Homo sapiens: one gene and its partner. The protein of the gene in region 2 purifies or fractionates together with the protein of the main gene of each other region. This does not show direct contact. Each region holds a gene or a part of one and is shown on either strand. Other genes may lie near its edges.

Region 1 (3,799 bases), on a different chromosome or scaffold from region 2:
CCTTCGCCAGGAAATAAGGATATTGCCTGCTTTGTTCATTTTGTGTGTTATTGTGATACAAAAACAAAAATAATGAGTGTTTTAGAGCTTTTGACTTTGAAGTTTACAAAAGGGGAAAGCTCTGTACACTAGCTGTCAATATTAAAAGACTATTTGAGCTCCCCATGTCCTCGGTTTGCTTATTTCTCTCTCTCCCCTGTGAACTTCTGATATAAGAGATCTAAATCAGTAAAAAGAACTGAGAAAATGGAACCAGGGATGGGTGAAAGAAATTACTCAATCTCTGGTTCTATATAAGCACCTGCCTCCAGGGTAATAAAGTTCTGTAACCAGGTAGACAGAGGGAAAACAAAAAGGCTTTTTATTTGGAAAGCCAGAAAAACAACAACAGAGTCTGACACTATATGCAAATGTCTCTTGAGCAGCATAACACAGTCTTCAGACAGACCCCAATGGAGAAGAACAGATCTGGCATCCCTGTGAGGCAGGGATTGGTCAGCTGTGGGCTGCAGCCCCTTATGGCCAAGGCAAAGGAGGGCAGGGAACCACCTCACCTCTGCGGGAGCAACTTGTCTCCGGCCAGGTAGCCAGACTTATGCACTTCCTTATTGAAGTCGCCATACTTAGACTGGACAGCATACGAGGCCAGCAGCACAGCGGTCTCAGGCGGGCAGTAAATATCATCATTGAGAATGCCCTCTTTCACTTGCAGAAAGAACAGGCGCTGAGTGATGTCCTGAATCAATTCCTCGGACACATCCTCAGGGTAGAACTTGGCACGGAACTTAAAGAGCAGGGGGCTTTCCTTCCGCACATCCTGGGCAGTCACCTGGGAAGAGTAAGGGTTATGGACTCTCAAAAAATAGGTTTTAAGGGTAATGGAGTGGCTGTAGGGTGGGGAGAAAACACTGAAAGATCATCAATTTGCATAATCTTAGACAGCTGGGTGGCAACTCCCCTGGTAATTAAGAAAAATAATACATTACTTTCACTGGGGACTGAATCCCATGTCTGTAATCACTTTCTGTTGGGAATTTCTTCCTGAAATTACCTTAATACCGACTGATGATCAGAAATCTTCAAACCACTTTTATCTGACTATATCCAACTATCCCCAAATTCTGATAGTAGGCATAAGCTCTTCTTTTAAGCTCGTCTTATAAGTCTCCTCCAACTTCATAAATTAGCAAAGTAAGGACTAGGATATATGTCTGAGGACTGAGAACTGGCTAAACAAGAGCACAAATTAGACCATTTTTTAAAGCCTGAAATGGAATACTAGTGGCTCCACACTTGTCCAGCAAAAGACTCAACTCTTTAGGAAAACAAGACTCTACCAGCAGAAGGTGGGGTACCTACTCCCTAGACACAATCAGAGAAGCAAACTGCAGGACAGTATGGAGACTTCTAAGGACAAGGCCAGCCAGTTTGAGGATACGAAGATGGAAGGCTGCCAGGTTCCCGTGAAGATGCTGCTTGGGGTGGAGAGCTTGCATGGACTCAAACCATCCCATTTGGGGTCCAACTGAGGTAAAAGATCAAGAAAGAGGGAAACATCTATATGGGGTTCAGACATTAGTTGACTGCTGGAGAAGGTGCAGCATAAGACTGTAAGATCTTTCAGATTTTTTTTTTTCTAGTTCAAGAATCTGTGGCTCTTTTTAACAAATCCCCAGCCAAGCTCAGTAGCTCATGCCTGTAATCCCAGCACTTTGGGAGGCCGAGGCGGGCGGATCACAAGGTCAGGAGATCGAGACCATCCTGGCTAAAACGGTGAAACCCCGTCTCTACTAAAAATACAAAAAATTAGCCGGGCGTGGTGGCAGGCACCTGTAATCCCAGCTACTCGAGAGGCTGAAGCAGGAGAATGGCGTGAACCCAGGAGGCGGAGCTTGCAGTGAGCCGAGATGGCACCACTGCACTCCAGCCTGGGCGAGAGTGCGAGACTCCGTCAAAAACAAAACAAAACAAAAACAAACAAACAAAAAAAACACAAATCCCCTAAAGCCATTGAGTTTGGAGAGATGAAGGGGATACCAATCCTCTCTTGAAAAGCCACTAATGGATTTGATCCAAAACAAGTCAAAGTTCAAGCTAGTGTTCCCATTAGAAAGAAAAGAGTCTCTTCTTCTTTGAATGCTGGCCATTGTCGCTGTTAGAAGTCAAAGTAGAGACAGAGCAAGAGCTTTGCCTTGCTTGTGTCCTCGGTCCTTATTCTGATCCAAGTGGTCAACAGACCACCCAGTCACAAACACAGCCCTAGGTATCCAGGATTTGCCAACTAGCACATGGTACCCTCCCAGGAATGTTCTGGAAAAGAAAAGAATTCTAAATCCAACAGAGGAATAAGCAGTTACCTTCTTATTGAGTTTCAGCCAGGTGGAGAAACCTTTAGTGTCCTGGTACTGCAGACCAAAGAACCAAACTTCCCTCAAGCCAATAGTTTTCACCACCTAGAAGAGAAAACCAAAACAACCAACCATTGATTGAATACTTCCTCTGTGTGAGGCACAGAGGACACAAAGTTTGAAGTCAATATTATATCTGCCCTTAAAGGGTTTAAGGTGCTCAGCATCTGGCAAGAAAATATACTTGAGCAGCAATCAAGAACTGATGTCGGCATCTCTCTGCACAAAGTACTGCTGAGGCAGGAAAGGGATCTATTACTTATGAGCACTGACACATACCAAGAACCTTACATCCATCATCTCCTTTAATTTTCATAATACCCCTATGCTAGACTTACAATTAGGCCCATTTTATAGATATCAAAAATGAGGTTCAAATAAATGAAATAACTTGCCCAAGTTTCAGGTTGTGAGTGACAGAATTAGGGTTCAAACCAGGTCTGTTTGACTCCAAATCCATGCATATCCAGTGATTTCTGCCACCTCCTCCTTCCCTCTACAATGTCACACCACTTCCCACTTCCATGATGGATTAAAGGCTGAAGGTGGAGATTGTTGGATTAACTCCTGTATCTTGTTCTCTTGGGCCACTCCCATATATTGTCCTTCATCCTTAGCAACTGGGGGTAATACCCACACCCTTAAGACTGAGTTCCATTTACAATACCCCAAATAAAGAATGTTTGAGAAGATAAAACGGGGATTGTGAAGGACTCTGAAGCCATGCTGTGCCTGGGTTCTGAGAGGATTTTTTCCAACCCTGATCAGAGCCAAGTCATGATTCCTCTTACACAGGTTTAGGGTGGAAATGAGGGTAGAAATAGGGTAAGTACCTCAGTGTAGCAGCTGAGGTGCCCCCTGTTGTCCTGAGCCTCCTGGCTGAACAGTGGGCAGGAAAAGGAGGCTTGCCAAGAGAACACAGATGAGCTCTGTTCTCTAGTCCCTGACATTAGCATGTTAATAGTCTGGCCCTCAGCTCAACCCCAGCATACCCACCACTGTCGATGGCAGCAGTGAAGCTGAGCCACATCCTAATGAGGTCAGGCTGGCCTTAGGCAGTCTTTTTTATTTTGTTTTTTGGGAGAAGGATGCAAGTGGAGGGTAAGGGTAAGGTGAGAAAGAATCATAGAAATATACCTGGAGATGGAAGCAGGGAACAAGGACCCAGTTTTGCTGATGTCCTTCCCTTATGAACAAATTAATATCTCCCTTCAAAATACACACACACACATGCACACACACACTCACTCACAAAGACACACATACACACACTAACACTGTATCCACAAAGTTTCTATTATGCATCCAAAGTCAGGCCCCACAGTCACACCCAGAGTTTACAATCTAGAGCTTCAGAGACCCCAAAGAAAAAAGTAGCTCATATTTATTAA
Region 2 (3,799 bases):
GCTCCCTCCCATGGGACAGGACCCCCCACAGGCAGGCGCACAGGCAGCTTCTGGAATGTTTGTGGAGTGGTTGTGTTTACCGTGAGAGCTGGGATTTGGGTGAGAGGCCCTCGTGACGGAAGCCGCGGCTGTGCCCCTGGCCTCAGACTTGTCAGGACTCACCCAGCTACAGATGGACCCCATGGGAAGCCCAGGGTGGAGCCAAAGAGGGGCAGCTGCACTTCCTCAGCCCTCCTGGCTCTGGTTCTGGACCCTGCAGACGTGGTGGGCTCTGGTCCTAGGGCTAGACCAGCCTCCGCCAGCCAGGGTCATCACCATCAGTGTCGTGACTTGGCCATGACCTGTGAAGGGGCTGGTGGACCCGAGGGTTCCGCTCTGTGTCTGCTGCCTGCAGCCTCCCGAGGTGCCTAGGTGGGATGGATGGAAAGGGGCACCACCTGCGCCCCTCCGCCCCCTCAGCCAGGCCCAGCCTTGTCCACCTGGGCTGCTTCCGGGGAGTCCTGAGAGCCAGGTTTGGATCCAGCAGCCCTTCCCGTATCCTGTCCCTTCCACACCACAGGATGAGCGGGAGGCTGCTTCTCTGCCGTTGCCCAGAGAGGGCCCTGAGGTCCTTTGCACAGCAAGGACAGGCCCTACTCCTTCCGGGCCCTGCTGTGCCAAGGGTCCCTCTTACAGGGCATCCAGAGGGCAGCCCCAGCCACCATCCTCCTGCCTCAGCAGGCCTCCTGTCATCTGTCCCACACTGTCTGTCCCACGCCATCTGTCCCATGCCATCCTGCCTCTCTGCTGGCCCCCAGGCCCCTCCCGTCCTGGACAGCTGGCACCTCTGCCCCATTCTCCACGCCCCTGCCTGTGTCCTGCTGGTCTCTGCCTGCCACCGGAGGGTGCCAGGGTGCAGGTGGACAGGGTGAGGGGGCCCACCTGGCTTCGGGGACATGTGGCCAGCAGGCCCTGGGAAAGCCTTGCTGGACATGAGGCTGTCTGGCACTTCCTCCCTGCCCTCCCCTTGGGCCCTGGCAGAATATGTCCGTCCCATCCCCATGGGCAGAGGGGTAGTGTCGGGCACACCCCTCCAGCTAGGGGGCCCCAGAGCTGCAGCAGAGCCAGAGGCCCTAGCCGCCGACTGAGTGTCTGCCCAGATGCTCTGGGTCCTGGAAGAAGCAGGTGGTGTGATTCAGGCCCGGAGTTCTAGGCCGTGCATCCCATCCGGGGTCCCTGCCCAGCCCCCTCCTCCTCTGCTTCCCACAAGCACGGCCTCAGCCTGTGCTCTGTGCTGGGTGCAGGGAGACCTGGGAGAGCCTGTTGGGGTGCCGGGTGGAGGCCAGGCAGCGGGCGGGGTCCTGGGGCATCTCTGCCTCTCCTTAGTTCTCCAAACAATTCTCCATGGCTCTGAGCTCTTGGAGGCCAGGCCACAGGGGTGGGTGTCATCTGCATAGGACAGCCCCACTCCCCTCAGCCTTCCCTGCCTGGGCTGAGCCCTGAGTCCCTTTTTCCCTGGAAGACACAGGTCTTCCAGGATGGCTTCGGGTTTCCTTGCTGCCCACGCACCCGTGGGAGACACCAGGTGGCAGTTCCCCACACCGGTCTCATTGTGAGGGGGAGTTGCATCCAGGACCCGGGCCAGCTGCCCTCGAGTCCAGGGCAGGTGGGGAGCGGTAAGGGTAAGGGGGCGGTGGCACCCCAGTACCCACTTGCCCTGCCTTCCTCTCTCCGCAGCCTGTTCGACATGGGCGGTGAGTATTACTGCTTCGCTTCCGACATCACCTGCTCCTTTCCCGCCAACGGCAAGTTCACTGCAGACCAGAAGGCCGTCTATGAGGCAGTGCTGCGGAGCTCCCGTGCCGTCATGGGTGCCATGAAGCCAGGTGAGCAGCGGGTCGGTGGGGGGAGGCGCATCTGACGTGGCGTTGGGGGCGCTGCTATGTGGCAGGTGCCTGCAGGGAACGGGTCTGCATTGTGTGACTTGAATCTGCCACACTCCAGATGCTTAGTCCCTGAGATTCCAGTGGCGTCAGGTCTCCAGGGTCACTCCTAGGAAACAAGGCTGACCACCAGGCAGGGACAGACAGAACCAGGAATTGCGGGGCTCAGGCCAAGGCTCCCCGGTCTGCTGGCCTCCACCTGCGCATCTCCACTGGCCACTAGCACGCCAGCCTGTCTCCTGCTTTGTCCTTAAGCGGTGTCTACTCCAGGGAGGGCTCAACCCACTCTGGACACTGGCATGGGGTCAGAGCAGGTTCACGTGCCGCTCAGCGCTCTGTGACCTTGGATGGAAAGCCCTCCTCTGGGTGGCCGTTTCCACATCTGTAAATGGGGAAGCAGCCGACTCATGGAGACTGAGTTAAGCTGTGTAAAGCACCTGCAAGGCCGCCTGGCCTGTGGTAGTGCCCTGCAGGGGTCACAGTCACCACCATGATGGCCATGTTGAGGCCAGGATGGGCCTGGTGTTTCTCTCTCCCAGCGGCCAGCGTAGGCCAACCTGTCCTGCCCTCAGCCCTCCCAACCCCAGGCAGCCTGCACAGGCCCCACTGGTACCTCTTGACCTCCCACCGCGCGCCGTTGATGTCTGTCAGGGCAGGCAGAGGAGGTCCCCTGGAGGGGAGCCAGCATCCTCCCAACAAGGCCAGCTTTCAGGAGTTCCCCCTGGGCACCTCCCGCTGTCCCCATCCCGCTCAGCCAGCCTCCTGCCGAGTGACCCCTGGGTCCTCCATAGCCCTGGCAGGGGTGGAGTCTAGCACCCACAGGATCGAACCCCAGCTCTCTGCCCTGCAACAATAGAAACCATTTCCCAGCAGTGATGGGAGGTCCTGGCTTGTCACCTTTGCCCAGAGGAGAGAATTGAGGGATGTGGTCTTCTCATGTTCTTGCTTCAAGCCTTCCAGGGCTTCAACACAGCACCCCTGCCGTAATCCTTGGATTCACCAGAGCCTGGGCAGGTTCCTATGGGATCACCATGTGCTGGCCAACCCCTAGGCCTGGCCCTCTACAGGCACATGGCTCCCACGACTCTGACTGAGATCTGTTCGGCAGCTGCCAGGGTCCAGCCTGCAGCGCAGAGGGGCTTTCCCTGCCCACACCGGCCCAGGCACAGCTGGCCCCCCAAGGCACGCAGGTTCTGCATCTTTGGTTATAAGCAACAGAACAGTCTCCAGCCAATTCGGTCATTTGGGGCTGCCACAAATTCACAGAGGTGGAAAATCAGGTCTGGGCTGGGGCCAGGGCTGCAGTGGCACAGGACAATGGCCCTGTACTCACAGCTGGATCGTCTGGCCAGGGCCCGCCCTCAGCACACAGGCCCCAGCCACCTTCTGCAGCCTGGAGTCCCTCCATCTGGGTCGAGGTCAGAGATCACCTCGTGTTGGCCATGCCCAGGTCATAGTCCAGCCCCCCCAGCTTGCCCCCACCCTCGCCCACTGCCTCTCACCCACAGCTATACAGACCTCCAGAGAGACAGGCAGGCCCAAGGCAGCCCCCTGTGTAGGGGAGCTCAGGCGTCCTCCAGGAGCCAGGTGGGCTTACCGCGGGCAGAGGGGATAGCCCAGTAGCGCAAGGCTTCAGAGTCCAGGATGCAGGCCCCAGACCCAGAGTGCCCCGAGCCCAGCCCCAGCTCTGCCGCCTGCTGGCCAGGTACCTTACTTAAGCCCCAAACAGGCGAAGGATAGACCCCTGCTCTCCCAAGGCAGAGTCCACTTCAGAGCGGGCCTGGCCAGCTCTGGACCGTGGCATCTAGTTAGACATGGAGTGCCCTCTGTTAAGGACCCACAGAGAGCTGGCAGCTGCCAAGTGCGCCCTCAGTGTT

The links.
Region 1: the proteins of PEPD (region 2) and MSN fractionate together in Homo sapiens (co-fractionation; one large-scale study listed by BioGRID). This does not show direct contact.

Annotation. Positions count from the first base shown.
Region 1 is NC_000023.11:65,726,468-65,730,266, reverse strand, and holds part of MSN (moesin), read right to left. Parts: intron 2,454-3,799; coding exon 2,358-2,453; intron 830-2,357; coding exon 555-829; intron 1-554. UniProt on the Homo sapiens protein: Ezrin-radixin-moesin (ERM) family protein that connects the actin cytoskeleton to the plasma membrane and thereby regulates the structure and function of specific domains of the cell cortex.
Region 2 is NC_000019.10:33,399,787-33,403,585, reverse strand, and holds part of PEPD (xaa-Pro dipeptidase), read left to right. Parts: intron 1-162; exon of another isoform or gene 163-1,716; coding exon 1,717-1,865; intron 1,866-3,799. UniProt on the Homo sapiens protein: Dipeptidase that catalyzes the hydrolysis of dipeptides with a prolyl (Xaa-Pro) or hydroxyprolyl residue in the C-terminal position.